Regions from separate parts of the Homo sapiens genome. Here region 2 is linked to region 1. Evidence: fine-mapped QTL for protein levels in blood plasma. A gene starts in region 1. The other region holds a variant in brackets. All regions are shown on one strand. Distances are between the middles of the regions.

Region 1 (15,820 bases):
ACTGAGCGAGACTCCACCTCAAAAAAAAAAAAGATTTCATCCTGAGGGACATGGGGACATTGTAGCTGGGGTTCTCCAGCCAGAAACTGATTTGGAAGTAGTAAAACATTGCCCAGACTCCCATGATGACCAGGTTTTCATTTCAATAATGAAACATCAATAGGCACAAATATATAGCCAGATGTGGAATAGAAGCCCATGTGTCTAGCCCTTGGAAACTATAAATCGCCAATAAAATTGCAAATTGGGGAGAGAGAAGCCTACAAAACTCGTAGAATTCAGATTAATAACATATTTAACGTCAGGTATGATTACTATTTTTTCCTTTCTTTTCTTTCCTCTGTTTTTTGAGACAGGGTCTTGCTCTGCTGCCCAGGCTGGAGTGCAGTGGCGCAACGATGGCTCACTATAGCCCTGAACTCCTGGGCTCTAGTGATCCTCCTGCCTCCCAAGTAGCTGGAACTACAGGAATATACCACTGTGGCCAGCTAATTTATTTTATTTTTTTTAAATTTTATTTTGAGAAAGAGTTTTGTTCTGTTGCCCAGGCTGGAGTGCAGTGGCGTGTTCTCAGCTCACTGCAACCTCCCCATCCCAGGTTCAAGCAATTCTTCTGCCCCAACCTCCTGATTAGCTGGGTCTACAGGCATGTACCAACACACCTAGCTAATTTTGTATTTTTAGTAGAGATGGGATTTCACCATGTTGGCCAGGCTGTTCTTGAACTAGTGACCTCATGTGATCTGCACGCCTTGGCCTCCCAAAATGCTCAGATTACAGGCATGAGCCACCACACCGGCCTAATTTATTTATTATTATTATTATATTTTAGAGATGGAGTCTTGCTTTGCAGCCCAGGCTTTTGAACTCTTGGCTTCAAGAGATCTCCCACCTCAGCCTCCCAAAGTGCTGAGATTACAGGCGTGAACGACTGTGCCGGGCTCAGCATTTTTAATTCATTCCAAACAGAAGTGCATTCTGTTTAATCATTAAACAGTATGTATGATGCTGTTTTGCTGAAACAAAATTGTAGCTTCATGTCTACAGACTGTCATCAAGGAGGCGTGGGAGTTTGGAAGGCCTTGTACTTGCCATGTGCCTGGGGGTGACTCAAATGGTCCACGATATTCTTTTTCTATTTGAGCCACACCTCAAAAACTTAAATCATATGTCATTTGGCTTTCCATGAGGACCCCATTCATGCATTGAATTGGCCTCTGTTCCTTGGTGACCATTACTGGGGTTGGCATCCATGATTCTTGCCACGGGGTCTCAACTTAGTAAATGATTCAAGAAACTAAGAGCTTCTTTGATGGAAGTATCTTTCAATTGCAAATTTCCCTGTAAAAGAGAAGTCTTGCCTTTATCTCAGCAGACACTGGGGGACGGGTCACTCTGGCATGAGCACATGCTACCCCACGTCATGTTTGCCTGTCTGATTCCAAATGCAATTCACACAGGATTTGTGTGGCTAGAAAGCAGTCAGCAAGATGACTCAGATTAATTATCACGGGAATAAAAATATAAAACAAAAAAATATGGACAGAGTTCGTGGCTTCTAAGAAGAGTCAGGGGACTGTGTTATGACTCAGTTTATTTCTGGCTGCTGATGGGAGATGGGCTGGATGGGTGGAAGGCGGGGCAGAGGCGGAAGATGAATTGCGAGGTCACTCACTGTGGTTGTCCAGTGGAAAGGGCTGAGGCCCCACTGGGAGTGGGGGTGGCGGCAGGTAGCAGAAGAGGTGGATGGGAGAGACACTTGTGAGTTACAAAGTATAGGACCTGGTGCTTACTTTTATTTTTTTTTGAGACAGGGTCTTGCTCTGTTACCCAGGCTGGATTGCAGTGGTGTGATCATGGCTCACCGCAGCCTCATCCTCCTGGGCTCAAGCAATCCTCTTGCCTCAGTCTCCCGAGTAGCTGGGAGCACAGGTGTACACAACCACATCCAGCTACATTTTTTTTATTTTTATTTTTTTTAGAGATGAGGTTTCCCTATGTTGGCGAGGCTGGCCTCAAACTCCTGGGTTCAAGTAATCCTCCCACCTCAGCCTCCCAAAGTGCAGGGATTACAGATGAGAGCCACTGCACCTGGCCTAGCGCCCAGTTTTAATTGAGGGAAGAGTGACAGTGGGGAGAGGAAGGAGGGTTTGTGGCTTGGGCTACTGACTAGATGGTGGTGTCAGGCACGGAACGGGGCGCAGGTTGCAGGGAGGCTGAATTTGGGGTGTGGCTTGCATGACTCTGACAGTGCCCATGTGCTAATCCCTGGGATCTGTGAATATGTTCCCCTACCTGGCAAAGAAATTCTGCAGATGTGTTTAAATTGATGTTGAGATGGGAAGAGGATCCTGGGTTATCCAGGTGGCCCAGTGTAGTCACTAGAGTTTTTGTAAGAGGGAGGCAGGAGAATCAGTCAGAGAGATGGGAAGATGCTCATCTGTGGGCCTGAAGATGGAGGGAGGGGCCATGAGTTAAAGAATGCAGGCAGCCTCTAGAAGATGCAAAAGGCAAGACACGGATTCTCTTCTAGGTCTTCCGGGAGGAACCAGCTTGCTGACACCTGATTTGTAGACCAGGGAGAGACATTTTGGACCTCTGACCTCCAGAACCATAAGATAAACTTGTGCCGCTTAAGGCGGTAAGTACGTGGTAGTTTGCTATAGCAGCCACTGTGAGGCTGCCCCTAGGCAGTTGGGGTCTGGGGCAAGAGAAAGATCTGGGCTAGAGATACCTGGCAGGTACCAGGGACCTAGGATGGGTGAGGCTAAGAAAGGGCTGTGCTCCCTAGAGGAGGGGTGAGGCTGAGGCTGGGGGAGGGTGTGAGGGACCTGAGAGGAGGACAGCGGAGAGGGAGAAGAGCTCCTGGAGAGAATGGTCACGGAAGGTGTCAGAGGCCCTAGAGATTCAGGTAGAACAAAAATGCTGCAGCAGCCTGTGACTTCAGCAAGAATAGTTTGTGTGGGGTGTGGTCTCAGGAGCACCAGGGAGTGAGTCCTGGAGAGGGGTGGCTGTGAGAATCTGGGAGCGAGTGTGAGTGTGGCGTGGAGGGGGCACTGTGTAACAGAAGGCAGAAGGGCAGGCAGCTGGGAGGCTGCGGGAACCTGAAGACCAGAGGGTTGACCCTTTGTTCCAGGAAACGCTTGATCAAATTCCCCTGAAGTCTCCCGCAAAGCACAGACGTTTGGACTTGTCTTCCCTCTTCTGTCTTAGGGGAAAAAGGAGTCAGAGAGCAAGAGACGGCTGTTACCTCCAGCTTTCAAGTAAGCCCAAGATTTGTGCGTACCTTTTCCAGAAACACAAATTCTACCTGATTGTAAAAAAAATGAACATAGAATTTGTTTTTTCAAGTTGCTTTAAGAAATCCATGTCCAAGGCCGGGCGCGGTGGCTCACGCCTATGTAATCCCAGCACTTTGGGAGGCCGAGGCAGGTGGATCACCTGAGGTCAGGAGTTCCAGATCAGCCGGGCCAAGATGGTAAAACCCTGTCTCTACTAAAACTACAAAAAACTAGCCAGGCTTGGTAGTGCACATCTGTAGTCGCAGCTACTTGGGAGGCTGAGGCAGGAGAATCCTTTCAACCTGGGAGGTGGAAGTCGCAGTGAGCCGAGATCATGCCACTGTACTCCAGCCTGGGCAACAGAGTGAGACTCCATCTCAAAAAAAAAAAAAAAAAAGAATACTTTCCCACGCACCCCAAGAAAATCTCTTCCCCAAAGCCAAGCTGCTCACACTTAGGGACAGTGAGGGGCGATGTGTCTATTCTCTATAGAACTCACCCTGACCTGCGCCTTGAGAGCAGGCATGCGCCGGGTCGGGGGTGTACAGTGTGTAGGTCAGGCCACGCTGTTTTGGGATAGCAACCAGCTCAGCGCCACGGCAGCACCCCAAGCTAGTGATGAACTGGTTAAAGCTTGTTTCTGCTAGGTTTCTGAGGCCAACAGGGCAGGGCTACACTTCTGTCCCATTCACTCCTATGGCCTTTGCTCCTAGCAAGGAGTCTGGCACCTGGAAGCGTCAGGTGAAGGTGTGGAGGGGCTTAAAGGCCGGGGTCCACGGCTTACTGGGGACAGTGTCCTGCGGCCTTGGCTAAGATCCCACCTATGGGACGGCACACTGGACTTTCCCAAGGTCATAGCTGGTGAACTGGGACAGAGAATAGCCACTTGGCTTTGATTCTGATACTGTTGGTGGTGCAGGCAAATTCTAAGAGCGGCAAAAGCTACCCTAGCAGACCACTGTTTGCTAAGGGCAGACACTGCTCATGAGCAGCTAGCGAGCTGTCAGGAAATCCAGCCACCCCTCCCAGGTTGGAGCCCTTGACAGGGATCCTCAAACTGGCTGTACTGGGAATATCCAGCATATCCAAAATGAAAGAACCACCAACAGGAATAGAAAATTTTTTGTAGTATGGAAGTTGTAAAGCTGTGTTTTAATAGGATTACCTTAGGAATAAGAGGACTGCTTTTTAAAGATACGAGATCCCGCTGCCTTGGCAATTCTGTTATCAGAAAGATAGTGATTTTGATACAAAACAGTAAGAAACTGTAGAATTGCAGGACCCATAATCCTCACAAGGAAGATTTAGAGAGTGCTGTGTGTCAATCACTCATCAGCACCTCACAGATATTATCTCAATTCGTCCTGGCAACCATCACTGCCCCTACTTAGCAGTCTCAGAGAGGAGACTCAACTCACACAGGGGCCAAGAGCTGGACCACGGCCAACCAGGTCTCCCCACCCCCACCCCAGCCATGCCTCTCCCCACCACAGCACCCCGCCTGACCCTAGTGTCCAGGTCTGTCCCGGTGGCCTCCAAGGAAATGGGACAAAACATCCTTTCTGCCAACTGCAGGGGCAGCAGAACGCCACAGTGGTTGAGCATGGGCTCTGGTGAAGGATGGCGGGGGTTCAAATCCCAGTTCTCCACCTCTCTGCTTCGCTCCGATTCCTGGGCCTCTGAGCTGGTCTCCTCCGCTGTGGAGTAACAGTGTGACTGCTCATCTGCACAGATTCCTTCTGTGCTGGACACGGTTCCAACTTTCCAACTACTCCCGCAGGAGCTCATTTAGTGGAGACAAGATCTTGCTCAGTGTCATAGTGAGGAAGAAATGGAAATATCTGTGCAGGGCCCAAGCCCGGCCTGGTGCGGGAGAGGCATTAATAAACGCAGCTTGAGTTCAGAAGCAGGTGGTCTGTGGCTCACTCAGCCTGGCTTCCTGCTGGGTCTTCACAGTGCTGGGCTACCTTCCTGGAGAGAACCAAAGTCCAGGCTGTGTAGATGCCTGTGGTCCACCAGCGCAAAGCAGCGGCCCATCAGGACGCTTCGGAGGTAGATGCGTCTGAGTTCCATGACATCGGGGACATGGCCCCACTCCTGTTCTGGAGGTCACGGGCCTGCTGAACCTCTTGTACCAGGTCAGCCACCAGGTTCATCTGGCAGGACCTGAGAGCCCCCACCAGGTGGGCCACTGTTGCGTTCTCCTTCTCTGTGTTCTTCCAGATTCTCAGTGACTCCCGCACACGCTCTGTCAGGTTGCGGGGGTATCTGTCCTCGATGCTGTCGATCTTGGTGTCTGAGACTTTGAGCTGACGAGCCAGCCTTCTCCAATCTTTCCCCACATTATCACATATGACGTTAAATGCTGCACACAGGTCTGGGAAGGAAAGAACAGAACGGTTTACCATAGGTTTGGAGACAAGCGACCCCACAATCCTCCCTAGGGCTTTTCAGCACAGACGCCAAGTGCTGAGTGGACAGAGGTGCCTACACGAGGTCCTCTGTAGAGGCTAGAGTCGCCTGGCAGCAAAGGGGCTGCACCAAATGCCCAAGAGTGGCCTGATTCCACCTCAGCCAAACCCCCTGCTCTCTAATACTGTCCTAGGAGGCGTGGCCCACTGAAGACTCAAGTGCCAAAGGAAGTTGTAGTGGAGCTACCTACTTAGAGCAGGAGACACTGAGGGAGGGGCTGGGGAGTTGTGGGAGGGAAGAAAATAGGGTTGATCCCACATCCTGCCCTACAGCAGGCTGAACGATGTCACCCCAAGGTATGTTCACGTGAAATTGCTGAAACCATGAATGTTCTTTGGAAAAAGCATCTTTGCAAAGGTAAGCTGAGGGTCTTGAGAGGAGATCATCCTGGATGACCTGGATGCACCAATGATAGGTATCCTTGCAGGAGACACACAGGGAAGGCCGTGTGAGCCTGGAGTGAAGCGGCCACAAGTCAAAGAATGCCTGGAGCCACCACAAAGCGGACGAGACCCGGAAGGAGCCTCCCCAACAGCATTCCGAGGGTGTGCCGGTCTGTGGCACCCTGCTTATTCAGATTTCTGGCCTCCAGATTGAGGGGGTAGATTTCTATTGCTTCAGGCCACCAGATTTGTGATCATTTGTTATGGCAATCACAGGAAACTAGTAGGCACTCCAATTGTTATTTAGAAAGCTGCCCCGAGTGACCACCAGTCTTCAGTCCCTGGCTACCATACTCCTCATCTGCTGACGTCACCACTGAGATCAGGGAGCTGGTCACAAGACCATAAAAGGCCGCTTCTGGAATGTGAAGAGAGGAAAGGAGAGGCAGGACAGGGTGCTGCTTGGACTACTGGCAATTCTGAGACACCGTTGGCAGGTGTACCAGCTCCCGCAGCTCTGACAGCCCTGTGGGCTGGGCACTGTGTTACCATGACTGTACAGATGAGGAAATTGAGGCACAGGGAAGCTAATGGACATTCCTGAGATCGTGTAGCTAGACGATGGCAGAGCCATGTTCTGAAACCCTAAGAGTGTGGTGCCAGAGTCGACCCTTAACCGCTATGCTGAACTTCTGGGGAGGAAGGCAGAGTCGCCCGCTACCAACCTGTCCATACCCACCGCTCACCTTCTGGTGTACTTTTCCCAGCACACAGTAACTACATGACGATATAAATAAAACCAAGCACACATACATCTCAAATGTCAGCTATGTTTCGTAGACCGCCTTTAAAATGCAATTTATCAGTGTTTTTCCAGACATTAAATATCCATAAAACCCGATTTTTCTACGTCCTGTTTTGTTTGTTCAGTACTGATTTTTTTTAAAATCTGGACTTGACTGCTCTCAGGCAGAGAGCTGTTCTGTCCATCCTGTCCCCAACAGGCACCAGTCTTTACAGAGTGAAACCCATGGTGACACATTTAGGCCCTATCTGATTGGTGACTGAATGGCTGATTCCAAGCTACAGCTTGAAGCCTCTGAGAGGCGTCCCCAGAGCACTCCCAAGCCTCTCCCGACTCTGAGAACAAGGGGGGTAGGGCTGAGAAACTCTGCTGTACTCAGGGTTTCTTTTTTATCCTGGAAGCTGCTGCAATCCACAGGCGAGGGTGGAGAGGGAGTGACCGAGAGCAGGACAGGAAGCCACTCCACAATGAACTTGACCAGAGAGGCAGTGTAGTGGCTAACACTACCCATCCGGAGGCCGGACTGCTTGGCTCAAGCCTAGCTCCGTCAGTTATCGGCTGCGCATTTCGACAAAGCCACTTAACCTGTGAGCCACAGTCCTGTCCTCTGTAAAATGGGAACAGTGATAGCTAACAGTATCTAAGCCACAGGGCTACTGCGAAAATTGTATTTGGCAGTTACAAGGGTAAGCGGCACACTGTAAGCCCCTGGGTAGGAGTTACTGAATGCTAGTATTACTCTCAGACAGCCGTGAAAAGCATATTCCGAGACAGAAAGGAAATGATGCGAGGCAGGCTCACCCAACCTCTGCCCCTCCCCCACACCTTCTCTGACTCATCTTTTCTTCAGTGAGTTTTCTAATTTACCCGGGCAGAAGTGGGTGGAGGAAAAAGGACTGTGCGTGTCCACGCCCTGCAACCTCGAATAAGTTAACTTTTCTGCGTTTCTGGCTCTCCCATCTGCAAAACCAGGGCTGTACGGAGAAAACCCACGCAAATCAAACCCGGCAAAGGGGAGGCGCCTGGAGGCCAACCGGAGGAGCCTCGCAGCACCTACAGCCGGGCGACCAGGCCCTGGCTCCCCCGGCCCGGCCCCGCGCCCACCTTCTTCCCCAGGCGCGGCCCCGGCCGCCGCCCCCGCCTCGAAGTCGTCGACGCGCCGCAGCAGGTCGTGGCGCCGCAGGGAGGCGAGCAGCTCGCGCAGGAGCTCGGTGTGCCCGGGCTCCAGGTCGTTCTGCTCCAGCAGCATGGAGAAGAGGTCTAGGCCGCTCTGCACGCGCTCCAGCTTGCGCTTGCCCACGCGCCCGAGGCATAGGAACTTGAGCTCGGTCAGCTCGCTGCTCGACAGGCTGGACGACACCGAGTGCAGCAGCACCAGGAACGGGTCCATGGCGGGGTCTGCAAGCGGCCGGGGCTGCGGCCCGGCCCTCCGTGCGCCCTCTGTCCTCGGCTCGCTGGCCCTGGCCAGGTCTCGCCGCTTGCCCAGCGGCCCAAGGATTCCACCCCCGAACCTGCACTCCGGTGCCTGATTCACTACAGGAAATCGACAAGAGCGCGTTTTCGACCGTTATCTCGCGAAAACTAAGGGACCCGCGCATGCGTCCCTAGCGAAGCCGCAGCCGTTTCCGCCCTGGCTGGCGGCGCCGCGGACGGGCGCGGCTTCTGCGCCTGCGCCCGGCGTATCGTCTCTTTTCCGGGTGGGAGGTGGGGCCTTGGGTGTCCTGAGAGCCTGCAGGTGGCCCAGCTCTCTGCGGTGAGGGCGGTCGCGCCTCTGCCGAGTCCACCTGTTTGCAAAGCGCGGTGCGGCCCTACTGTGTGCAGGGCCGGGGCGGGGAGGGCGCAGCCCGAACGTCACGTGCCCTCACATCTGTTGGTGACCAAGGTTACTTATGCATTAACGTTTAGGGACAAACGTGGAAAATGCATTCTTTGGTGCCCCTGGAGACATCTTGTGTGTGCAGAAAACACTACTCAGAAGTTTATGTGCGTTTAAACATGTGATTTAAATAATACATGATTTCCAAAGTAGCAGTCGTTTATTCAATCAACAGTATTGAGCGCCTACTGTGCCAGGTAGTAGGGTCTGGGGACAAATTAGTGAGCGAAGCGCGAGGGTCCCCGCGTGCCCGGAGTTTACATCATAATTACAAAAGCGACACGCTCCAGAAGAGAAGGTCGTGGCGGCCGTGGTGGCTCAGCCTGCAATGCCCGCACTTTGGGAGGCTGAGGCAGGATTGATTGAGACAAGGGGTTCGAGACCAGCCTGGGTAACATAGTGAGACCCCGTCTCTATTAAAAAATAAAAATAAGGAAAAATAAGGAAATCGTATAGTATGCCAGAAATTCAGAAGAGCCAGGGGAAAGGGAGTCTCTTCACGGGGTGGGCGTGTGGAGGGTGGGGGGCCCGGTGGTCTGATGGGGCCTCTGTAAAGGCGCAGGTGAAGGCTGGGAGGGGCCGGGTACCTAGGTGTGGGGGGAAGAGCTGGGCACACGGAGAACAGAAGAGCAGAGCACAGGGGACGGCTGGGGTTCCAGGAGCAGCAATGCCGTGGGTCTGGAGGTGAGGAGGGGGTGCAGATTAGGAGAGCCCTCACCAGCCAACAAGGACCCAGCTTTACCACAGGGTGGGGCAGGGGCTGATGCCAGCTGAGTTTGTTTTCTTGAGATATAATTCACATACCATTCAATTCACCCTTTTAAAGTTATACTTCAGTGGTTTTTAGTGTAGTCACAAGGTTGTGCAACCCTTACTGCTGTCTAACTTTAGGACATTTTCATCACCCCAAGAAGAAACCCATTAGCATGTACTCCTCCCCTCCCCCACCAACCACGAATCTACTTTTTTTTTCTTTCTTTCTTTTTTTTTTTTTTTTTGCTGTTTTGAGACAGAGTCTCGCTCTATGGCCAGGCTGGAGTGCAGTGGTGCGATCTGGGCTCACTGCAACCTTTACCTCCCGGGTTCAAACAATTCTCCTGCTTCAGTCTCCTGAGTAGCTGGGATTACAGGTGCCTGCCACCATGCCTAGCTAATTTTTGTATTTTAGTAGAGACAGGGTTTCACCATGTTGGCCAGGCTGGTCTTGAACTCCTGACCTCAAGTGAGCCTCAGCCTCCCAAAGTGCTGGGATTACAGGCGTGAGCCACTGTGCCCTGCCGAATCTACTTTTTAAAATCTATGGATTTGCCAATTCTGGACATTCCATGTGTACAGAACCATACAGTATGTGGCATTTTGTGTCTGGCTGTTTTCAGCATCATTTTCAAGGTTCATCCATGATGTAGAACATATGAGTACTTCATTCCTTTTTTTTCTTTGAGACAGAGTGTCACTCTTTTGTCCAGGCTGGAGTGCAGTGGCACAATCTCGGCTCATTGCAGCCTCTGCCTCCCGGGCTCAAGCGACTCTCGTTTCTTGTGCCTTAGCCTCCTGACTAGCTGGGATTGTAGGTGTGTGCCACTATGCCAGGCTAATTTTTGTATTTTTAGTAGAGACAGGGCTTTGCCATGTTGGCCAGCCTGGTCTCAAACTCCTGGCCTCAAGTGATCCTCTTGCCTCACCCTCCCAAAGTGTTGGGATTACAGGCGTGAGCCACTGTGCCCAGCCTCCTTCCTTTTTATGGATGCATACTATTCCACTGTCTGGGTGTTTGGGTGCCACAGTGTGTCTATCCATTCATCGGAGGATGGACATTGCCTTTGCTTCCACTTTTTGGCTGTTGTGAATAATGCTGCTATGAACACTGAGTTACAGTTTTATTTTGTTTATTTATTTATTGAGACAGGGTCTTGCTTTGTCACCCAGGCTAGAGTGCAGTGGCACAGTCATAGCTCACTGCAGCCTCCTGGGCTCAAGCGATCCTCCCATTTCAGCCTCCTGAGTAGTTGGGATTACAGGTACATACCACCACCCCTGGCTAATTTTCATTTTTTTTTTTTTTTTTTGTAGAAACAGGATTTTGCCATATTCCCCAGGCTGGTCTTGAGCTCCTGGGCTCAAGTGATCCACTAGCCTCAGCCTCTCAAAGTGCTGGAATTTCAGGTGTGACCACCGTGTCTGGTCTTGAGTTACATTTTTTTTTTGAGATGGGGTCTCACTGTGTTGCCCCAGACTGGAGTGCAGTGGCACGATCTTGGCTCACTGCAACCTCTGCCTCCTGGGTTCAGGAGATTCTCGTGCCTCAGCCTCCCGAGTAGCTGGGATCACAGGCATGTGTCACCACATCCGGCTAACTTGCCAGGGTCTGACCCACAGACCTGGGCTGCACTACAGATGAATAATGTACTCAGACACCAGTATTCAGTGAAAGAGCTGGCTAGGGGGCTGGACCTTTCACAAAAAGAGTTGTTCCAGCCCCGCGGCCTGACTAGCTGGTCCTGCAGGCATTTATTCAGCACAGACTTAATGACAAAGGCTTTGAGTCAACACATTTGTGGGTAATTAATCTGGTTGCCCTCCCTCAGAGAGAGTAGTCCTGCCCGTGAATGATCAAAGGTCTGTTTTAGGACAACATGAGTGAACAAGCTATTTAGATAAACTCCTCTACATTCCTATGTATCTACGCCCTAAACTTTTAAGAGAATTCAGCTACCTTCAGCCAAATCTTTTACTGAAGCTATGCAAACCTTCCGGCCTTCCAAGAAAGTTTGTGTCTATTTCCTATAACTTTATCTTTATAATTTCTCCTACCACCTTGACCAATCTCCTGCATTGTGTATGTTTAGCAGAGACACGGTTTCACCATATTGGCCAGGCTGGTCTGGAACTCCTGACCTCAGGTGATCTGCCTGCCTTGATCTCCCAAAGTTCTGGGATTACAGGTATGAGCCAGCGTGCCCAGCTTTTTTTCTTTTTTTCTTTTTTTTTTTTTTTTTCTGAGATGGAGTCTCATTCTGTCACCCAGGCTGGAGCGCAGTGGCGAGATCTCAGTTCACTGCAACCTCCGCCTCCCAGGTTCAAGCGATTCTCATACCTCGAGTTACATTTTTAAAGATCACGCTGGTTGCTGGTTAGAAGCCAGGGGACTACAATAATCCGAATGAAAGGCAGTGCACTCAGACCAGAGGGCAGGTAGCAGTGGAGGTGGTGAGAGAGGGCAGCCTTCTTTAGATTGGGGATGCGCATAAACTAGAGAATGCAGGATACCCTGTAAACTTTGAAGGCTGGTCCATCCATTGATGGAAACCGGGAAGGTGCGGGTGGGGTGGGCTTGAGGGAGGACCGAGATTGGCTTGGGATGTGTGTGTGAGATGCTGCTATGGTTTGAATGTTTGTCTCCTCCATTAATGGGTTAATGGACTGATGAGTTATTATGGGGGAGGATCACACTAAGCTCCCTCATCACGTGATACCCTGCATCGCCTCAAAACTCTGCAGACTCCACAGAGAGCCCCCGCCAGCAGGAAGACCCTCCCCGAAAGTGGACCCTTGACCTTGGACTTCTCTGACTCCATAACTATAAGAAAGAAATTTCTGGGCCAGGTGCAGGGACTCACACCTGTAATCCCAGCACTTTGGGAGGCCAAGGAGGGTGGATAGCTTGAGCTAAGGAGTTCAAGTCCAGCTCAGGCGACATGGTGAAACCCCATCTCTACAAAAAAATACAGAAAAAAATTAGCCGCGTATGCACCTGTAGTCACAGATACTCTGGAGGCTGAGGTGGGATGATCATTTGAGTCTGGGAGGCAGAGGTTGCAGTGAGCTGAGATCGAGCCACTGCACTCCAGGCTGGGTGACAGAGTGAGAACCTGTCTCAAAAAAAAAAAAAAAAAAAAAAGAAAGAAATTTCTTTTCTTTGTAAATTATTCAGTTTCATGTATTCTGCTATAAGCAACAGAAAGCTAATACAGATACCTATTAGATGTTTTGGTGGAGATGTTGACTGGTCAGTGAGGGGCATGAGATGACAGGGAGAAGAGGTGAATTTGAGAGTTGCCTGCAGATAGATTGTGTTGAAAAAACCAAAAGAGTGCAGTCACCTATGAAGAGGGATAGAAAAGGTGACTGGATGACCAACTGGGCTCAATGGCTCACCCCTGTAATCTCAGCACTTTGGGATGCCAAGATGGGAGGATCACTTGAGCTCAGGAGTTTGAGACCAGCCTGGGCAATGCAGTAAGACTTCATCTCTACAAAAAATTTAAAAAATTAGCTGGGCGTGGTGCCACACGCCTGTAGTCTCAACTACTGGGGAGGCTGAGGTGGGAGGATCGCTTGAGCCCAGTAGGTTGAGGCTGCAGTGAGCTGTGATCATGCCGCTGCACTCCAGCCTGGGTGACAGAGTGAGACCACGTCTCAGAAAAAAGAAAAAGAATAAAGATGACCAACAGATGAGCCTAGGGGTGTCCACCTTTAAGGGGCTGGGAGATGTGGGGAAGCCAGTGAGGGAGGCTGAAAAAGCACCATATGACCTTTTCTTGATTAGTGTAGCTATATAGTAAACCTTAATACTGGCTACAGCAATTTCTCCCATTGTATTTTGCTTTGTCAAGATTCTTTTAGCTATTCGAGGGCCTCTGTCTTGCTATATGAATTTTATTTTATTTATTATTTTATATATATATATATATTTTTTTTCTTTTTTATTTTTTTTGAGATGGAGTCTCGCTCTGTTGCCCAGGCTGAAGTGCAGTGGCGTGATCTCGGTTCACTGCAACCTCTGTCTCCCGGGTTCAAGCAATTCTCCTGCCTCAGCCTCCTGAGTAGCTGGGACTACAGGTGTGTGCCACCATGCCCAGCTAATTTTTGTATTTTTAGTATAGATGGGGTTTCACCATGTTGGCTGGGCTGGTCTCTAACTCCTGACCTCAGGTGATCCGCCCGCCTTGGCCTCCCAAATGCTGGGATTACAGGCGTGAGCCACCACGCCTGGCCTTTTTTTATTTTATTTTATTTTTTTTTGAGACGGAGTCTCGCTCTGTCACCCAGGCTGGAGTGCAGAGGTGCGAACTCAGCTCACTGCAGGCTCCGCCTCCCCGGTTCACACCATTCTCCTGCCTCAGCCTCCCGAGTAGCAGGGACTACAGGAGCCTGCCATCACGCCCGGCTATTTTTTGTTTTTTTTGTATTTTTTAGTAGAGATGGGGTTTCACCTTGTTAGCCAGAATGGTCTTGATCTCCTGACCTCGTGATCCACCCGCCTCAGCCTCCCAAAGTGTTGGGATTACAGGCGTGAGCCACTGCACCTGGCCCATTTTGGTCTTTGTCATTAATGTCCAAGGCTATTCTAAATATGTGGGCATATTTAGAATAATGTCATTAATGTCCAAGGCTATTCTAAATATGTGGGCATCCTTGGCTCTCCTTGGGGGTAGTGTTTTTTCCAAAAAAAGAGACTGCTTCCTGAGGGGCAGGGCTCTGTGGTAGGCAGAATACCCCAAATGTCCACATCCCTGCCGGCCCTCACCCTGATGCGCAGACCTGCAGCTATGTTCGTCAGCATGGCAAAAGAGACTTTAAGATGCCATGAAGAGGCCGGGCACAGTGGCTCACACCTGTAATCTCAGCAATTTGGGAGGCCGAGGTGGGCGGATCACCTGAGGTCAGGAGTTCAAGATCAGCCTGGCCAATGTGATGAAACCCCATCTCTACTAAAATACAAAAATCCCAGCTACTTGGGAGGCTGAGGCAGGAGAATCCCTTGAACCTGAGAGGTAGAGGTTGCAGTGAGCCGAGACTGTGCCATTGCACTCCAGCCTAGGTGACAAGAGTGAAACCCCGTCTCAAAAAAAAAAAAAAAAAGCCATGAAGATTAAGAACTTTGAGATGGGGAGATCGTCTTGGTTTTCTTGGTTTAACCCTGCAGACCCAGTCTAATCATGAGGCCTCATAAAAGAAGAACCAGAGAAGAGGCAGCACGAAGACGTGGCCAGGAAGGGGTCACAGACGGGAAGACAAGGGCCTCTGGATGCTGGAGAAGGCACGGACCTCCCCCGGAGCTTCCAGAGGGAGCCAGCTGTGCAGGCACGTCGATTTTAGCCTAGTGAGGCCTGTGCCAGAAACCTGACCTGTAGTAACAGAATAAATTCGTGTTGTTTTGGGCCGCAGAGTTGGTGGTCATTTGCCACCACAGCAAATATTTTAGGTTGGTGCAAACTAATCGTGGTTTTGCACCAACCTAATAGAAAACTAAGGCCGGGTGCAGTGGCTCACGCCTGTAATCCCGGCACTTTGGGAGGCCGAGGCGGGCGGATCACAGGGTCAGAAGTTCCAGGCCAGCTGGGCCAATATGGTGAAACCCTGTCTCTACTAAAAATGCAAAAATTAGCCAGGCATGGTGGCGGGTGCCTGTAGTCCCAGCTACTCGGGAGGCTGAGGCAGGAGAATCACTTGAACCAGGGAGGCGGAGGTTGCAGTGAGCCAAGATCGCACCACTGCACTCCAGCCTGGGCAACAGAGCGAGACTCCATCTCAAAAAAACACAACGCAACACAACACAACACAACACAACACAACACAACACAACACAACACAACACAACACAACACTACACAACAACACTAAGGTAGGTGCCAGGTGCGGGGCCTTTCCCTTCCCTGAGTGCAGCTCCTGCAGGCAGCCAGAAGAGGGCAGCAGCCACCAACAAGCAAAAGCAGGAGAAAGAATTTCTGCTGCCGAGGTTGGAACCAGGTCCGGGTAGTGGCTACAGCCACTGTGAGAAGGGAGTTTGAGGGAATATTTAGGACGTGCTCATTCAGTGTCTGAGTCCTGGCTACAGAAGTGGGATTTTGTTTTTGTTTTTGGAGACAAATTCTCTGTTGCCCAGGTTGGGGTACAGTGACATAATCACGGCTCACTGCAGCCTTGATCTCTCAGGCTCAAGCCATCCTCCCACCTCAGCCTCCCAAGTAGCTGGGACTACAGGTGCATGCCACAACACCTG
Region 2 (15,820 bases), 92 kb after region 1:
CCACCTATCCAACCATCAACCATCATTAACTATTCATCCCTCCGGCATCCATCTATTCACCCACCCCTCCACCCATCCATCATCCATCATTCATCCTTCCATCATCCACCCATCCACCCGTCATCCATCATTCATTCCTCCAGCATCCATCATTCATCTTTCCATCAGCCACCCATCTACCCATCAACCATCATTCATTCCTCCAGCACCCATCCATCCATTTATCCATCCATCCATCCACCCACCCATCATCCATCATTCATTCCTCCAGCATCCATCATTCATTCTTCCATCGGCCATCCATCCATCCATCATTAATTATTCATCCCTCAGGCATCCATCCATTCACCTACCCACCCACCCATCATCCATCAACCCATCCATCCATCATTCATCCACCCACCCATCATCCATCATTCATCCTTCCATCATCCATCCACCCACCCATCACCCATCATTAATTCCTCCAGCATCCATCCACTCACCCACCCACCCCCCCATCATCCATCAACCCATCCATCCATCATTCCTCCACCCACCCATCATCCATCATTCATCCTTCCATCACCCATCCACCCACCCATCATCCATCATTAATTCCTCCAGCATCCATCCATCCACCCACCCACTCACCCATCATCCATCCATCATTGATTATTCATCCCTCCAGCATCCATCAATTCACCTACCCGCTCACCCACCCATCATCCATCATTCATCCTTCCATCATCCATCCACCCACCCATCATCTATCATTAATTCCTCCAGCATCCATCCATCCATCTACCCATTCACCCACCTACCCACCCATCACCCATCCATCCATCATTGATTATTCATCCCTCCAGCATGCATCCATCCACCTACCTGCTCACCCACCCATCATCCATCATTCATCCTTCCATCAGCCACCCATCCACACACCCACCCATCATCCACCATTCATCCCTTCAGCATCCATTCATCCATCCACCCACACACCTACCCATCCATCAACCATCCATCTGTCCATCCACTCATTCACCCATCCATCCACCCACTCATCCATCAACCATCATTCATCTCTCCACCATCCATCCACCCACCCACCCACCCATCAATCATCTATTCATCCGTCCACCCATTCACCCATCCATAATCTATCCATCCATCCATCCATCCATCCATCCATCCATCCATCTATCCATCCATCCATTATCCATCATTCAGTTATCCATCTCCATCTCTATCCATCCATCTATCATCCATTAATCCATCCATCCACCCAACTGTCATTCATTACTCCTTGACTACCCCCATGGGCCAGGCCTTGTATCCACTGCTGGGACCTAAAATTACATGGGGAGTGGGAATCATTCCAGGTAGAGTAAACAGCTGGGCCTGGACAAACCCGCATTGTGTTTGCTGGGCCTGGCACAGAGTAGTGCCCAGTAGGTATTTCTCAAATGAATAAGTAACTGAATGAGCTAGTCCTGGCACTGACGTGACCATCAGCCAAGCAATCCTGAGACTAGAAAAGCAGCCAGTGTGGCTGGAGAATGGAGGAGGGGGAGGAGGGGGAAGAGGGGGTAGGGTTCAGGGGCCTGTGACCCAGAGAACTGAATTCGGCTAGAAAGGGACTACTGGTGTCCATGGAAGAAGCATTTTTAGGGGGAGGATAGGCATCTGCCAAGTGCCAGAGGGGTGCGGAGGGATGAAGGGGGCTGGACTCTGAGGCTGGAATTGGTCAGGACAGGCCTGTGGAGGGGATGGTCCTTTTCCAACAGGATTGGAGTCGGGAGTTCTGCAAGTCATGGGGTCCCAGACGATGCCAGATGTTACACTAAAAATAACCAAATATGTAATTTTTGTGCTAAGTTAGATAGCATCTTCATCTGGATTCCCAGGCGGGCAAGTTGTATCAAGTACCAAAGATTTAAAAACATGTATGGGGGCCTGTGGGGGAGGCTGAAATGAAGAACATTCCATACACAGAGGTCCTGGCCCCTGGGAATTGGGACAAGGCCACTATTGTGAGGTTGTCAGGGAAGCATCTCTACCCACCACCTGTGGAAGGACCAGCAGATAGGGCAAGGGCTGCACATGCAGGGTCCAGGAAGGACTGCTTCCCGAGAGGGAAAGCTGGGCACATTTGGGGAACAGAGGCTGACGTGGAGACCTGGGGGGAAGGCTGGTATCGGGTGTGGGCCCATGGGAGAGGAGGGAAGAGCAAATGGATGTGGTGGGGACATGTTCTTTTCGGGGGCATGGTAGAGAAGCAGAGCTTCCTGGGGAGCCTGGGTGGGAAGGGTGGAGTTCCCATGCTCAGAGTGAGGGGTAGAGGGTGGGGACCAACGCTTTGGGGAGTGAGGAAAATTAGCAACAGCCACTAAAGAATAAAGGGGCTGGCTGGGTGCGGTGACTCACGCTTGTAATCCCAGCACTTTGGGAGGCTAAGGAGGGTGGATCATTTGAGGTCAGGAGTTCAAGACCAGCCTGGCCAACATGGCGAAAGCCCGTCTCTACTAAAAATACAAAAATCATCTGGGCCTGCTGGCAGGCACCTGTAATCCAAGCTACTCTGGAGGCTGAGTCAGGAGAATCACTTGAACCCGGGAGGCAGAGGGCCTGGGTGACAAAGTGCGACTCCAACTCAAAAAAAAAAAAAAAAAAAAAAGAAAGAAACAAAGAAAAAAGAATAAAGGGGTCACCCAGTGTTTCCCAAAGTGTGTTCCCTAGAACACTAGCTCAACAACTTCTCCATTAAAAGGGTTCCAGGTCAGGTAAATTTGAGAAACACTTCATTGACCACCATCAAACAGGTTTCCCCAATGCGCTGCTGGGGGCCATTGTTCTCTGTGCACCTGGTGTCAGTGGTTCCCAAGTTTATTTGCCTGGGAGCCCTGTGGGATTAGGCCACATGCCAGCAAGGACTGCTGGAGGCCCAGGCACAGTTCAGATTGTCCCGAGAAGATAAGGGAAGGACAGCGTGCAAGGAGTGGGCTCTGGGAGGACAGCTTTCCCTTTCCCATGCTCACGGTCACCTGCCAAGGGCATTTTTGACAATCAGAAAGAGGAAAACAAACCAGCCACACAAAGCTCACGGACTTTTCTCCTGAAAAGGTGAGAGGGGACACCCGCTTCTCAGCCCCCTGCAGCGAGCGCCCTGGGGAGGCCCTGGAGGCCGGTAAGTCCTCGGTCCAGCTGCAGGCCCACCCCGCCCCAGAACGCCTCCAGGCTCTGACAGAGCCACCTCCTGCTCCGCTCCATCAACTTACTTTTCTGTCGTTGAACTCGACGTTTTCACCGTTGTAGTCTCCCTGTTAAAAAAAGAGGAAAGGGACGTTCTTATCATCCAATGGAGCTTTGGAGGCGCTCACATCCATTATGTTTCAAAACATAAACCCCAGCAGCTCTCGTTGACACAAATTAAGATCATCCTGGGGCAACATTTCACACAGAGTGTGAGGGTTGCCCAGGTGTGCCCCCGTTATGATAGAAAGGCCGTGCACGTCCCTGTTGGCCGCCCTGTTGGCCTCCACCACCAGGACGGCCTGAGCCGCCTCTTCCCTCGACACAGAGGGGACTCTAGGAGAGGATCCACGGTCGGGTCCTTGGAACCAGAAACACAAATGAAAGGGGGCTTTTGGAGGCAGGAAGAGTCGTATCAATAGGGTGCGTATATGTCCCACTCTGCTGGGACAGTCCGTGTCTTGCTCCCTTCTCACTGTGGAGCATCCCAAGAGGGACAGTAAATGACAAGGTCATTGTCATCTAATCAGTGAGTCCAAAACTCCCATTCTACAGATGGAATCACTGAGGCTCCGAGAAGCAAACTGACATTTCTGAGGACACACACCTAAGTTCGGTCAGACCCTGACTTGGATCCAGACCTTCAAACCTAAAGGAAGAGAAGGGTCTAAGGGTTGAAAGCCCATCTTGGAACATCATGGGTCTAGACTGCCTATGGCTATGTGCACGTTACCCTCACAAACACTCAAAATGATACTTAACTGTCATTCAGTGAGCCCCAAATAACTACAGTTGACAAAAGTAACTGGGGAGGAGCAGCAAGGGAGCGGCCCTGTCGAGGTTCAGGGCATGGCTGGCCTGGCCTGGCTAATAGTTTTTTTTGTTTGTTTGTTTTGATTTTGTTTTTGTTTTTGAGATGGAGTTTCACTCTTATCGCTCAGGCTGGAGTACAGTGGCATGATCTCGGCTCACTGCAACCTTCGCTTCCAGGTTCAAGTGATTCTCCTGCCTCAGCCTCCCAAGTAGCCGGGACTACGGGTGCCCACCACCACACCCGGCTAATTTTTGTATTTTTAGTAGAGACAGGGTTTCACCACGTTGGTCAGGCTGGTCTCAAACTCCTGACCTCAAGTGATCCGCTCGCCTCGGCCTCCCAAAGTGCTGCGATTACAGGTGTGAGCCACTGCGCCTGGCCTGGCCAATGGGTTTTAAGAATATCCAGGCAGACAAAGCTATGGGGCTCCTGGGGGTCTGTCCAGTGCCCTCTCCCCTCACCAGCAACTTCCATGACCCCTTCTAACCCCTGCCAGGTGGGGACGACTTGACCACACACTCAAGCAAGCAACCAAATGCAGGTGGTCTTGGAACGAAGACGCTCTGAGAGCAGTTTAACCAATTTCCTCCTAAGTCTTCAGGGGATCCTCACCCACCCAAGCCTGACTCCTTTTAGTGTTTCCCAGTTTCTTTCCATGGATGAGACAGCCACGCGATCCCAGCAGCACCTCATTTATACGGAGGTCCTTATGCTGGTGACCTCGTTAGTCAGGAAGAAAGCCAAAAGGCCGCCAAGTAGCCAACATAAATATCAAAGTCCTTTCAGTACGGGTGATACACTCTGATTCCAGGAGACTTCCTCAGGGTCTCAGTTGGAGCATGTGACTCTTACCCACACACAACTCTATCAGGTTGTTATCCGCCTCCCGAGTTCAAGCAATTCTCCTGCCTCAGCCTCCCTAGTAGCTGGGATTACAGGCATGTGCCACCATGCCCAGCTAATTTTTGTATTTTTAGTAGAGATGAGGTTTCGCCATGTTGGTCAGGCTGGTTTCAACCTCCTGACCTCAGGTGATCTACCCGTCTTGGCCTCCCAAAGTGCTGTGATTGCAGGCGTGAGCCACCGTGCCCAACCGACCAGATATTCTTGAGGAATGAATGAATGAATGAATGCAGTAAGCACAGGATTGGAAGGGGGTAAGATGCAGGACAGCTTCATGGGGAGGAAGATGGAAGCAAAAATGTAAAGCCAGAACTACACTGCATGCAGTGAGAGCCTCACCATGGCCACCGAGGCCAGCCTGAACTTCCCTGCAGTCAGTATTCTGGGTAAGGACATGGGTGCACGCGGCTCAGGCCAGAACCAGTCATCTCCCCAAATGCTTAAACATCAGCTTTGGTACTTAGCAGCACGGGCGCCCTTCAGTCATATGGAAAATCTGTGGCTGTAAACTTCCATATTCCCTAAGGATACCTGCCACCCACAGCCTAGGGCTTCCGAGCTCCACTCCTTCTGGGCTGTGCGCCCCTGGGCAAGTGGTCTGAGCTCCTCCAGCCTGTTTCTCCATCTTTAAGGTGGGAACAGACCCCACATGGCTGCATAAGGCACGATGAAGATTTTGAAAGAGGAGATTGTCTGCATGGATCTTGGAGATGCTTCTTGTGAGGCTGGCTCTCTGACAATAAATAGATCCAGCTGATGAGGGAGTTTTGCGCCAGTCAATTTAAACTGTTGACAGTCAATCCCTAAGACAAATGCAGTAGTGGCTGCCAAGAAGAGGGATGCATTTGGCCTCCATGACGGGATGAGGTGGGGACACAGCGAGGCACTGGAGTTGCAGAGTGTCACTAGGGACGGCTTTTGGCCCCAGCTCCTCCAAAGGGGCTGTGTGACCTCAGGCAAATTACTAAGCCTTTCTGAGTCTCTGTGTCTGCACAGGTTATATGAGGTACAGTTCCTTCTAAACAGAGGGCTCTGCACACAGTAGGTGCTCAGATACGTTCATTTCTCCCCTTTCCCTTTTAAGACTTAAAGGGCTAACTCAAAACAAGCAGGGAGGGCCGGAAACATTTTGGCTTCGGTGCCTCAGCCTCTCAGCAGGGATTACCTGCTTAAAGGTCAATCAGGAGCATGGATGTAGCTCTAGGCTGCCTTCTTGGGATCATGGGCTGTGCCAGGCAGGGCTGTCTTCCTGGCACCCAGCCGGAGCCTACACAGGGTGGGACAGAACAACCAGACCGGCTGGGTCCTCTGGAGGAAAGCCTGACAGAATGGAGGAGTGGGCTCCTCCAGACTCAGGGCTTCAGGGCAGGAACCCGGAGCCACTGCCCTGGTCTAGGGGCCTGAACTCTGCCCTTGAAACCTCCCCATACAGCAGGTCGCTGGCCGAGGCAAACCGACTCAATCCAATCTCAATCAACACCACGTTTATTGAGCACTTATTAAGTGCTGAGTGCTTGGGCTTCCTTGAGATGACACACATAACTAAAGGTGGTCAGACGGTGGTGTCTTTGCAGGACAGGGACCATCTGAGGCCCAGAGAAGGGAGGAAGAAGCCACTAGTCCTGGGGAGGAAGGCAACAGGCAGGCGTGGTGTGGGTGCTTCTGTCCGCCTGGGGTGGGGTGGGGCGGGGAAGAGTACCGTAGCAGAAGGAACAGCATGTGTGAATGCACGAAGGGAGGAAGCGGGGCTGCTCAACCACCCCAATCCCCGGACCTACAGTGAGGAGGAGGCCCTGACAGGGAGGCGACGAGGTGACGGGCAGCAGATCTGCCTAGACTCCTTCCCTTGGGGTCAACCGTCTGGAGAATACACCCCTGAACTGCCCTGCGGGATCCCTGCACCTCAAGTTTGTCTAATCCATTGTTTCTTCCTCAAGAAGAGAGGAATTAGGCTGGGCACGGTGGCTCACGCCTGTAATCCCAGCACTTTGGGAGGCTGAGGTGGGTGGATCACTTGAGGTCAGGAGTTCGAGACCAGCCTGGCCAACATGGTGAAACCCCATCTCTACTAACAATACAAACAATTAGCTGGGTGTAGCGGTGCACGCCTGAAGTCCCAGCTACTTGGGAGGCTGAGGCTGGAGAATTGCTTGAACCCAAGAGGTGGAGGTTGCCGTGAGCCGAGATCATGCCATTGCACTCCAGCCTGGATGACAGAGCGAGACTCTGTCTTGTTTCAAAAAAAAAAAAAAAAAGAAAAGAAAAGAGGAGTTAGGACAAGTTATGATTCCTGACCCACAGATGGGGACACTGAGGCTCAGTGAGACAAGGGGCTGACTCCACCACTCAAGGCGGAGGAGCAGGTAAGTGGCCGGGACTGGAATCTGGGTCTCCTTAGTCCCAGGCCTGTCCCTTCTCTCCTGCTTCTTGGCTCCTGGCCTTTGCACATTTGCAAAGTTTCAGAGCTCCTCTGTCTGGGATTCCCACACTGCTCAGGCCCGGAGGCCCATTCCCAGTGCCCTGCTGAACTTGAGTCCCTGTTTCCATAGAGACAACAAGAAGACAATCTTCTCTCTCTCTCCACCCCAAGTCAGCCACTGACATGGGCTATATTTGTCAAAGGGATACCAGTGGGATCTGGAGATTCAGCTCAGGAAGCTGGCCACTTGCTCTGCAGAAATAGACACGTACAGAGCCCTGGTCATTCTGCCAGAGCCCCGGGCCAGCTGGGGGTAGGGGAGCCCAGGCCAGGAAAGACATTCTGTGGACCCGCTGGCTACGAGGTTCAGAGGAAGTCGAGGCAGGAGCAGCTGCCACCCGTGCCCCCGTTTTGGTGGGATTGTTTTGCAAGAAAAGATGGCCCTGTGTGTAACTTCTTGGCCCCCACCCGGGGAACAGGGAAGGCCTGTGTACAGTTGACATTTACAGCGAGAGCCAAGCAGGAAGCTGTGACCACAGGATAATTGCAGCTCCCGGGGGGGTGTGGCCCGGCGGGAT[T/C]TGGGGAGTCAAATGACGCAGAGATAAATCGTGTGTCAAGGTTACTTACATCGTGCAGTGGGTATGCAGCCGCGTACACACCATTGGCCAGCAGGCTCGTGATGCCTTAAAAACAGAGGCAGAGAGAAGGTTATGGGGCAGGCGGGTCTCCCGCTTCCCATTGTAAAGTCACAGCGGTCACAGGGCCATCTCAGCCACTAAGAGCTTCTCAAAATGAAACGAACCTGACTACGCAGAGCCCGGCCACCTCTGGGGTTTCTTCCCCAGGAATGACAGGGTGCAGCTGGGTTATTGATCTATCAACTAGGAGATGACGAAACACATGCTCGATTGGCAGAATTAGGAAGACACAGAGAAAACCCCAAGAGGCGGCTCTGTCTCAGAGGCAGGCGGTGTGAGCGGACCATGGCTTCACTGTCACCCCAAGCCTCCGATTCACCGGCTCCCCCCACCTGTCCGAGGGCAAGCCTGCAGATGGGGAAGGTGGATTGTAAGTGGTTAGAGAAGCTGAATCATGAGGAAATATACGGATGGAAAAATTGATGGTGTCAGAAAACACACATACAATTTGGAATTAGATTTTAGGTTGATTGGGAAAGCCGGAGGAGGCCCACACTTACCATACTTCCCACATTTCCGCCTTTTACTTAGAAGGGCGGAGTCCTTCTTTCTTCCCTCGCCTTGCCCTGTTTATACATTGGCTATTAGTGAGGTGGAAGGGCCTGACAGGATCAAAGCTACATTTGGGGCAGCAAGCGTCAGTGGCCAGTGATTCTGGCGGACTCACAGCCGTCCAGTGCTCCTGGAGGCAGTGGAATGCTGGCAGGGCCCCTTTTTACGTGGCCCCCAGGGCCTGCACTGGGCACATTATAAAAACACCATGCCTGTGTGTCCTAACAGGTGCGCATGCGGGCGCCCAGCCCCAGGAGACTGCGAGAGAGGACCGGAAAGCCAGGGCCATGTGTGGGGAAGGGTTTCCTGGAAATCAGATCTTGCTCCAAATACATCGTGGGGGCCCAGCCAGGCGGGGGCGTTTCCATGGGGCCCTTTGCTGCTCATGGAACCCCCTGCTTGGCTGAAGAGGCTTCCTAGGCAGTAAGAGCGTTAAGTTTTTCACAGCAGCCTGGGCGGACCACCCTCTGAGACTCCACCTGATAGCGGCGGGAAAATGACCTCCCGAAATCCCCTTGAAAATGGGCCATCTCTGTGGTCAATGACCTGGAATGATCAGGGGACTAAGGGATGCTTAGAAGTCAAAACCAGAGGAAGGGGCTTAAGCCACATGTGTGAGTGAAAAGTTTGTCTGCAATAGAAAGTGAACATGGGGGCCCGGCACAGTGGCTCACGCCTGTAATCCCAGCACTTTGGGGGGTTGAGGCAGGTGGATCACGAGGTCAAGAGATCGAGACTATCCTGGCTAACACAGTGAAACCCCGTCTCTACTAAAAATACAAACAATTAGCCAGGCGTGGTGGCGGGCGCCTGTAGTCCCAGCTACTCGGGAGGCTGAGGCAGGAGAATTGCTTAAACCCAGGAGGCAGAGGTTGCAGTGAGTTGAGATTGTGCCATTGCACTATAGCCTGGGTGACAGAGCAACACTCTGTCTAAAAAAAAAAAAAAAAAAAAAGAAAGTGAACATAGGCCCTCAGCCAGGCTCGCTGGCCTCCTTCCTGTTGCTGGAATGCTGCTAACCTGGTGCTGCCTGCCGCAGGGCCTTTGCATGTGCCACTCCCTCCATCTGGAAGGCCTTCTCTCATCACAGTTCCTAAATCCCGCAGCTAGCCCCACCCTGCTCATCCTGCAAGACTATGGGACACAACTTGGCAGGTGACGGGAATCCTCAGCACTTGCGGATGAATTTAGAGGTGGGTCGACTCTCAGACAAGGTGTCATGGTGAAGCAGGGCTGAAGAGGAGGACCCGCATCTATCTGCCCCGTCACCAGGTGCAGGGAACCAGCCCCGCCACAAAACCGGTGGGAACACAGAGACCCTGTGTCCCCAGGGACCACCCGAGCAGAGAATCAGCCTGGGCCATGCAGCCTGAAGACGCTGGACTTCTATTGCAACCATACACGTTTCTACTGGAAGGAACGCTGCAGGGACCCAGGGGGGAAACCGAGGTCCAAGACCCGGCCCTGGGACCAGAACCATGCCTCCTCCTTACCTCTAGTTACCTTTCCAAGGCTGTGCCCTGGCAGCGGTGACCTAGAGGAGCAATTTCAAAAACCCAAACTCCCAACGTCACCTTCCTTTCCGCCTGACCTCACTGCAGTCGTGTGTACTAGGGCTTGGCCATTCTAGAGGATCTCAGTCCTTTTGACCCTGGATGGGACTCCTCCACACTCCCCTTGCCTTAGGACATGGACTTAGAGACTTCAGGCCTGCAAGGGTATCCCTGTGAGTGAACACAGGCCATATGGTCTGGGGCCAAGCAGCCACCAGAGCTGTCGAGGGTTCGTCTTCTCTCTGTCTCCCGGGCCTGACCTCAGGAATTCCAGTTCCGAGCCCTTGACTCCCACTGCTCTTCATTTTACTTCCCACAGCATTCCTGCCACCACGGGAAGCCAAGGCAGCAAGATGGTCCCTCCTGTATGCACAGACTCCAGCTTTCACCAGACCTGCTGTGTCCCCCGGGAGCCATGGCCTCATCCTTTCAGAGGCTTCTACAGAGTGATGGATGCTACCCTATGGCACGGCTCTCAGCAGGTCATAAGACAGCTCAAGAAGGAGGGGAGGAAAGGCTGGAAATGGCATTCCTTTGCTCTGCAATGTTCTGGCTTTCACAAACTGCCTGCAGCTGTGGGCAAGGGACCCACTGTGGGGGGTGGTTCCCAGCTACACAATTTAATTGGGAAGATTTTGTATCTACGGCTTAAGGGGTTCTGGAAACTGGTACCCAGAAAGCCTGGTCAGGATGGTTTTGTGGCAGCTTCCGGAATTAGGCTGTCTGTACCTGGTGGTGCCTGGTCAGGGGGCGCTGCTTTCAGCAAGCCCAGCTGTGCTTTTAAGGGTCCGGAACAGCCACATGGAGATGCCGCCCCGGCTGGAACCCCAATTACTTCCCACTGGACCGTGAGGGTCAAGAGAGGGCCAGGAATCCCCCGGTCATCCCTAACACTGGTCTGTTTCCAGCCTGGATTTACCACCCGTGCAGGGAGAGCCTGTCCACACGCTCACAAACCCCTCAGGCCAAAGTGAAGGATACATTTGTGTTTAAAAGTGCTGGGCCATAAAACTGCCCTGCACGCTCCCAACCCAGCCCTCTTGTCTGGAACTGTTACACAGGCTTAAATCAAAACCCTCTTAAACACCCCAAGCCGGCTGCCTGCCTCCCACAGAGATGACTCGGAGGTGAGATTCCGACTTGGAAACCAATGCTGATCTCAAGCCCCAAAAACGTGCTTACCCATGCTGTACTTGGCCTTTGTACACGTCGTTCTCTTCAAGATCTCATAGACCTATTGCAGAGACAAGAAGGGGGGTGAGCAGTTACTTAAGGCACCTTCCACGAGCAGAAACAGTCTGCTGTGGCTGGAGAGGACCTGGTCACACGTTACGCATGAAGACCTCCTTGGTGCTATCTTCCAAGGAAAGACAATGGCATTTATTCAGGGAGGGTTGACCCAGCTCCGGATTCTCAACACTGTCAAAGGCTTGAGCTTCTCAGGGAGAAACAGGTGCACCTGCAGTTCCCATCTTTCACCTCCCAACGTGGGAGTCATGGCAGTTGGCCCCAGCAAAGCACTGCCGTGCCCTCCTGGGCCTAGTGCTGGTGTCCTGTGTCACAGCTGTGCCACGTACCCTGCCTGGTGGATTTACGGTCCCCTCGTGCTGAGAGCTGAGTTGGAACAGCACCACTCTGGGACACAGCCCTGAATGTTCTAGGACTCTGGGGGATCAGGGGTGGTGGTGGTGGGGCGGGCCTTGGGATCCATTCCCCACGGTGGCAGGAGGCGGCCATCATCGGGCTCTGGGTTCCTGGTGCCTGGGCAGAGCCCTGCTGAAGGGATTCCCCCCCGGCTGCCTGCCCCTTGACTAGTGACGTGTTTTGTTTGGTGGCCTCAGCAGCTCCGGCTTGGGAGTCTGTCTGCCTGGAACCTGGCGCCAGCTCTGCCATTTGCAGCTGTGTGATTTTGGACCAGCGACATCACCACTCCCGGCCTCAGTTTTTCCATCTGTAAACTGGGGTGAGAAGAACTGGTCGTGCTATGCAGACGTGCATTTCAGAGCATGCCAATTCTGCCTCCACTCTCTCAGGCAAGGCCAGCGTCCTTCCAGTTCCCCCTGGCCCAGGCCATCTGACCGCTTCCCCGCCCCGCCGCCTCCACTGGACCCACCTGTCCCAACAACCCCGCCCCCTGGCTGCCTCTCTCACTTTCCAAACTCACTCCTGCAGCCACAGGGCCTCCGCCCTGGCTGTTCCTTTTCCCAGAAGCACTTGTCCCCTTCAGATTGGAATAGGTCCAGGGTCCCCTTAACAACCAGGCCTTGAGGCCACCACCCTCCCGGTGGCTCTGTCTTCTAGCTCAGCTTGCCTCTCCCCACCTGCCGGATTATAAATGTCCTCAGTGCCTCTTTTCTCCCACCCAGCAGGTGCCCAATACATCCCTGCTGAATGAAGGAAGGAATCGCCCACTAGGCTGTTCTCAATGGCTCCCTCCCCATCATCCCTCAGATCTAATCGGTTCTGACCTTGCTGATTCTCCTGTAACCACCTCCTCCCTTCCACATGCAGTTATGGCCCATGTTTATGACCACTGCCACCAGCCCTCATCCACCAGTCATTTACCCTCCCACAGCTGGCCACTGGCAGTGATCCTTCTGGAACGGATCTCACCACATCCTCAACCTAGCTCCACAACCTTCTATGGCTCCCCAGCGCCCACAGGCCAAAGGTCTAAAATCCAAGACCAGCACAGTGGGCCTCTCCCTATCGAGTACTGCTGTTCTCTGACTCCTATCCACTTGCACACTGGACCACCCCAATGCCAGGACAGATTGAATGGTGTGGAGGAGAGGAGTGGGGAAGGGCTGTCAGTTCTCCACGGCTTTGCCTAGAACCTCAGCCAACCCTGCAGGCTGTTGGATTTTGATGACTATTAGGCCTGACTAACCAAGGCCAAAGCTATGAATTATCAGTTTCTTTGGAGCATGTTGGCCATTTAGAAACTGGCCTCCAGGGTCTCTGGGAGAGAGATGCCCTCCTCCCTGCCCCAGATCTGTCTGTCCCAGCAGTGGCTCAGAACCCCCCGTGCTGGTACGACCTGCACCGACCTCCTGCTGGCTGCCTGCCAGTCTCAGGTGGTGGTCATGAGGAGTAGTTGTCTGGACAAGGTCACCCTGACTGTCTCCTCCCAGCCCTCTGTCTCTGCCCGGCCAGGCTGGGCTTTCTGGGCAGGGAATAGAGAATAACAGCGAAAGTTTGGCTGCCAGGTTAATTTCTTGTTTAGATAGAAGTTGGGTCCTGAGCCATGCACAGCCCCAGCTTGGCTGGTGGACAGGTTGGATAAACATGAAGCCAGTGCCTTGAATAGGGCAGGGTGGCCTGGTCAGATTTCAAACCTCAGTTGGCTCCTCTGGCAAAGGCCTGGAAAGAGATCTCAACCCACGCGCCTTTGCCTCCACCAACCCTCCCTCCTGCCCACACCTGCCTGCCCTGAAAGCCCCGAATCGTGGCCTGATGGTCAGGCACGCACAATCCCACCACGAGGCGGCTCTGAGACATGTGCTGGGAGCTGCACAGATCCAGAAACACCGACCTTTGAAATCACTCCAGGGGTCTGGCTTCCCTCCTGCTTTCCCAAGCTCTGTGCTGATTCCCTTCCTCTCAGCTGCCCCTGCCTGGGGCACGACCATCCCCTGGGCCCCTCGTTGCCCTCTCCCTTTCATTATTCTAATTATTTCTGTCACAGACAATTAGAGCCGGCTTCCACCGGGAGGAGTTTCACCAAAATGAAATTATCATCTGGATCCCCAGGGCCATCTTGCCAGTGAGCCGTTTCCAGGCGCGTGCGATACTTACAATCGTGCTCCGGGTTTTGCTGTCGAAAAAGGAATCCTTATCAGACAAGTCAAATCTGTGGAAATATCGGGAAGGAAACAAGACACAGTTCACCAGAGCTGGCAGTTCTCTGGGTTTCAAGGCCCTGGGAAACCACACTGTCCCCATTAGCCGTGACCGTGAAATGGACAGAACTCTGTCCGCACGCCAGGTATGACCCGTCCGCCCCTGGGCATTTGGAACAGACTGTTTCACTGCCCCCGCACCTGGGCGAGGCCTGAGACCCACATAGGTGGGAAGTGACCTAGGAGGCGAGTACGGTCAGACCACCCTCCAGCCCCCCACCCCCCACAGCCCCCCAGAAGATCCCTGCTTCCTTTTGATGACATCCTCAGTGGGCAGTTTTGAAAGTCTCTGTTTCAACAAGGCGGGGGACAGGGGCAGTATCACCGCCACCATCAGACAGCTCCAACCTTGAAAACAATCTCCCTGTATTTCCAATGGTTTGGGTCCTGATGGGCTGCATAGGGATGGCCCGAGGCTTCCTGAGGGTGGAGGGGCATCTTGGGAACACACTCCCTGCTCTCCCTGCTCTCCAAGGCACTTCGGGGAGAGCTGGGGAGGGCGGCTGGGCCAGTTTCCACCTCCACGGAGCCTGGAGGTGAGCTTAGCCCTGTCCAGGCAGCAGGGCTGACAGAGTCGACCCAGGGCAGAGACGAGGGAGGTCGGCGGGGGTCCTGGAAGGAGGGCGGTTTCCTCTAATGCCCCAAGCCCCTGTTCTGGATCTGGAGGAGAGGGCTGGGCTTGGGGGTTGCTTCCTTCTCTCTGGTGGCATGTCCTGTCCGCTCTAGGAATCAGGACCTGGTAAATGCATCCAGTGATGCTCATGGCTCCACCCCTACTACATTTATAAGCAAGGGCCCCTGTGAGCTGAGGCACCTGTTCGTCCTCCCTGTCTGCTTTTCCATGCCCCCGACCCTGTGAGGCCAGCACTGTCCAGGAGCCCTCCTGCCCGCCAGAGCTTCCATCCAAAGTCCCTCTGGGTTCCCATGACTCAAGCTTTCTATTCCCACCTCTGCTCACACTCCAGCTCCGCCCAGTGAGGCCAGCAGAGGCCTTGCAGTCACTGCTGACCCAGGTGGCTACGCCCCACTGCCCCTCGGGAGGAGGGAAGTTTCCAGAATAGACGTGGCCCTGCCAGGCAAGCCAGCTGGCGGTGAGTCCCTGGGGCCTCAGGCCTCCTGCCTGGGGATGCTTTTCAATTTCTGCCACAAGGAGTGAGACTTACTGGGGCTCAAGGCTGCCTGGGCTGCAGGAGGCCTGGTTGGCCAGACACTGGAGGGGGATGGGGTGGCGGGGCAGGGGTGCGGAGCGGGTGGGAAGGCATGTCTAGACCACTGCTTTGGGGTCCTCACTCAGGCCAAAGAAGTTTTTCCTGCGTCACCAAGCAGAACAAGATGCTGTGTCCCCCTAACTCATCAGTTAACGGTGATCTTAGAAATCATTTCCACAGCCTCTTCTGGGCTCAGCAACCACAAAGCTCTTACAAGAACACGCTCTTCTTTGGGGGACAGATAATCAATCTGCATTTCTCATGCTAGAAGGTTAAATCCCCACACACAGGACCCTTTGGGGAGCAGGCTGGGGGTCCCCACTTACAGATGCTGCTTCTCCCGGGAGAAGGGATAGGAGAGTCTCTTCATGGTCTGGGGCCTGTGCTCAGCCACTTTGGGCTGGATGGGATCTGTGATTTTCTGGAGCACAGAGTTGATTTTTTTCAGGAGGCCACGGGTCTCATTAATGTGGTACATCTGCAGATAAGACAAGGGACCGGGGAGCTGCGTCACCCTGCTGGACCATGATCCGTGGAATC

Which allele goes with the higher level. Alleles are on the strand shown, and positions count from the first base shown. The strength of an association depends on the size of the effect and on how common the allele is.
As copies of C replace T in region 2, the plasma level of the protein whose gene starts at base 8,495 in region 1 goes up (weak association).

Evidence for each region. PIP is the chance, under the fine-mapping model, that this variant and not a neighbour inherited with it causes the effect. Protein levels are from antibody-based Olink assays in UK Biobank. Linkage for the fine-mapping came from a reference panel and not from the study's own genotypes, which makes the PIPs less certain.
Region 2: its variant is fine-mapped to the plasma level of the FADD protein (UK Biobank, PIP above 0.99).

What each region holds. Positions count from the first base shown.
Region 1 is chr11:70,195,971-70,211,790 of GRCh38, reverse strand. FADD (Fas associated via death domain) reads right to left here and starts at 8,495. Exons shown (of 2, transcript NM_003824.4): 1 at 8,046-8,495; 2 at 4,401-5,658. The coding sequence starts at 8,331. The coding sequence ends at 5,318. LOC124902705 (a long non-coding RNA gene) reads left to right here. Exons shown (of 3, transcript XR_007062761.1): 2 at 2,534-2,641; 3 at 3,214-3,281. RefSeq lists silencers at 7,765-7,956, 8,006-8,085, 15,394-15,688 and an enhancer at 14,561-15,060.
Region 2 is chr11:70,103,937-70,119,756 of GRCh38, reverse strand. ANO1 (anoctamin 1) reads right to left here. Exons shown (of 26, transcript NM_018043.7): 4 at 15,607-15,758; 5 at 13,969-14,023; 6 at 11,353-11,404; 7 at 7,995-8,050; 8 at 3,258-3,299. Among named protein-coding and RNA genes, the nearest start is that of ANO1, 34 kb to the right of the region's middle. RefSeq lists enhancers at 2,500-3,000, 3,001-3,501. The variant T/C (reference allele first, on the strand shown) is at 7,946.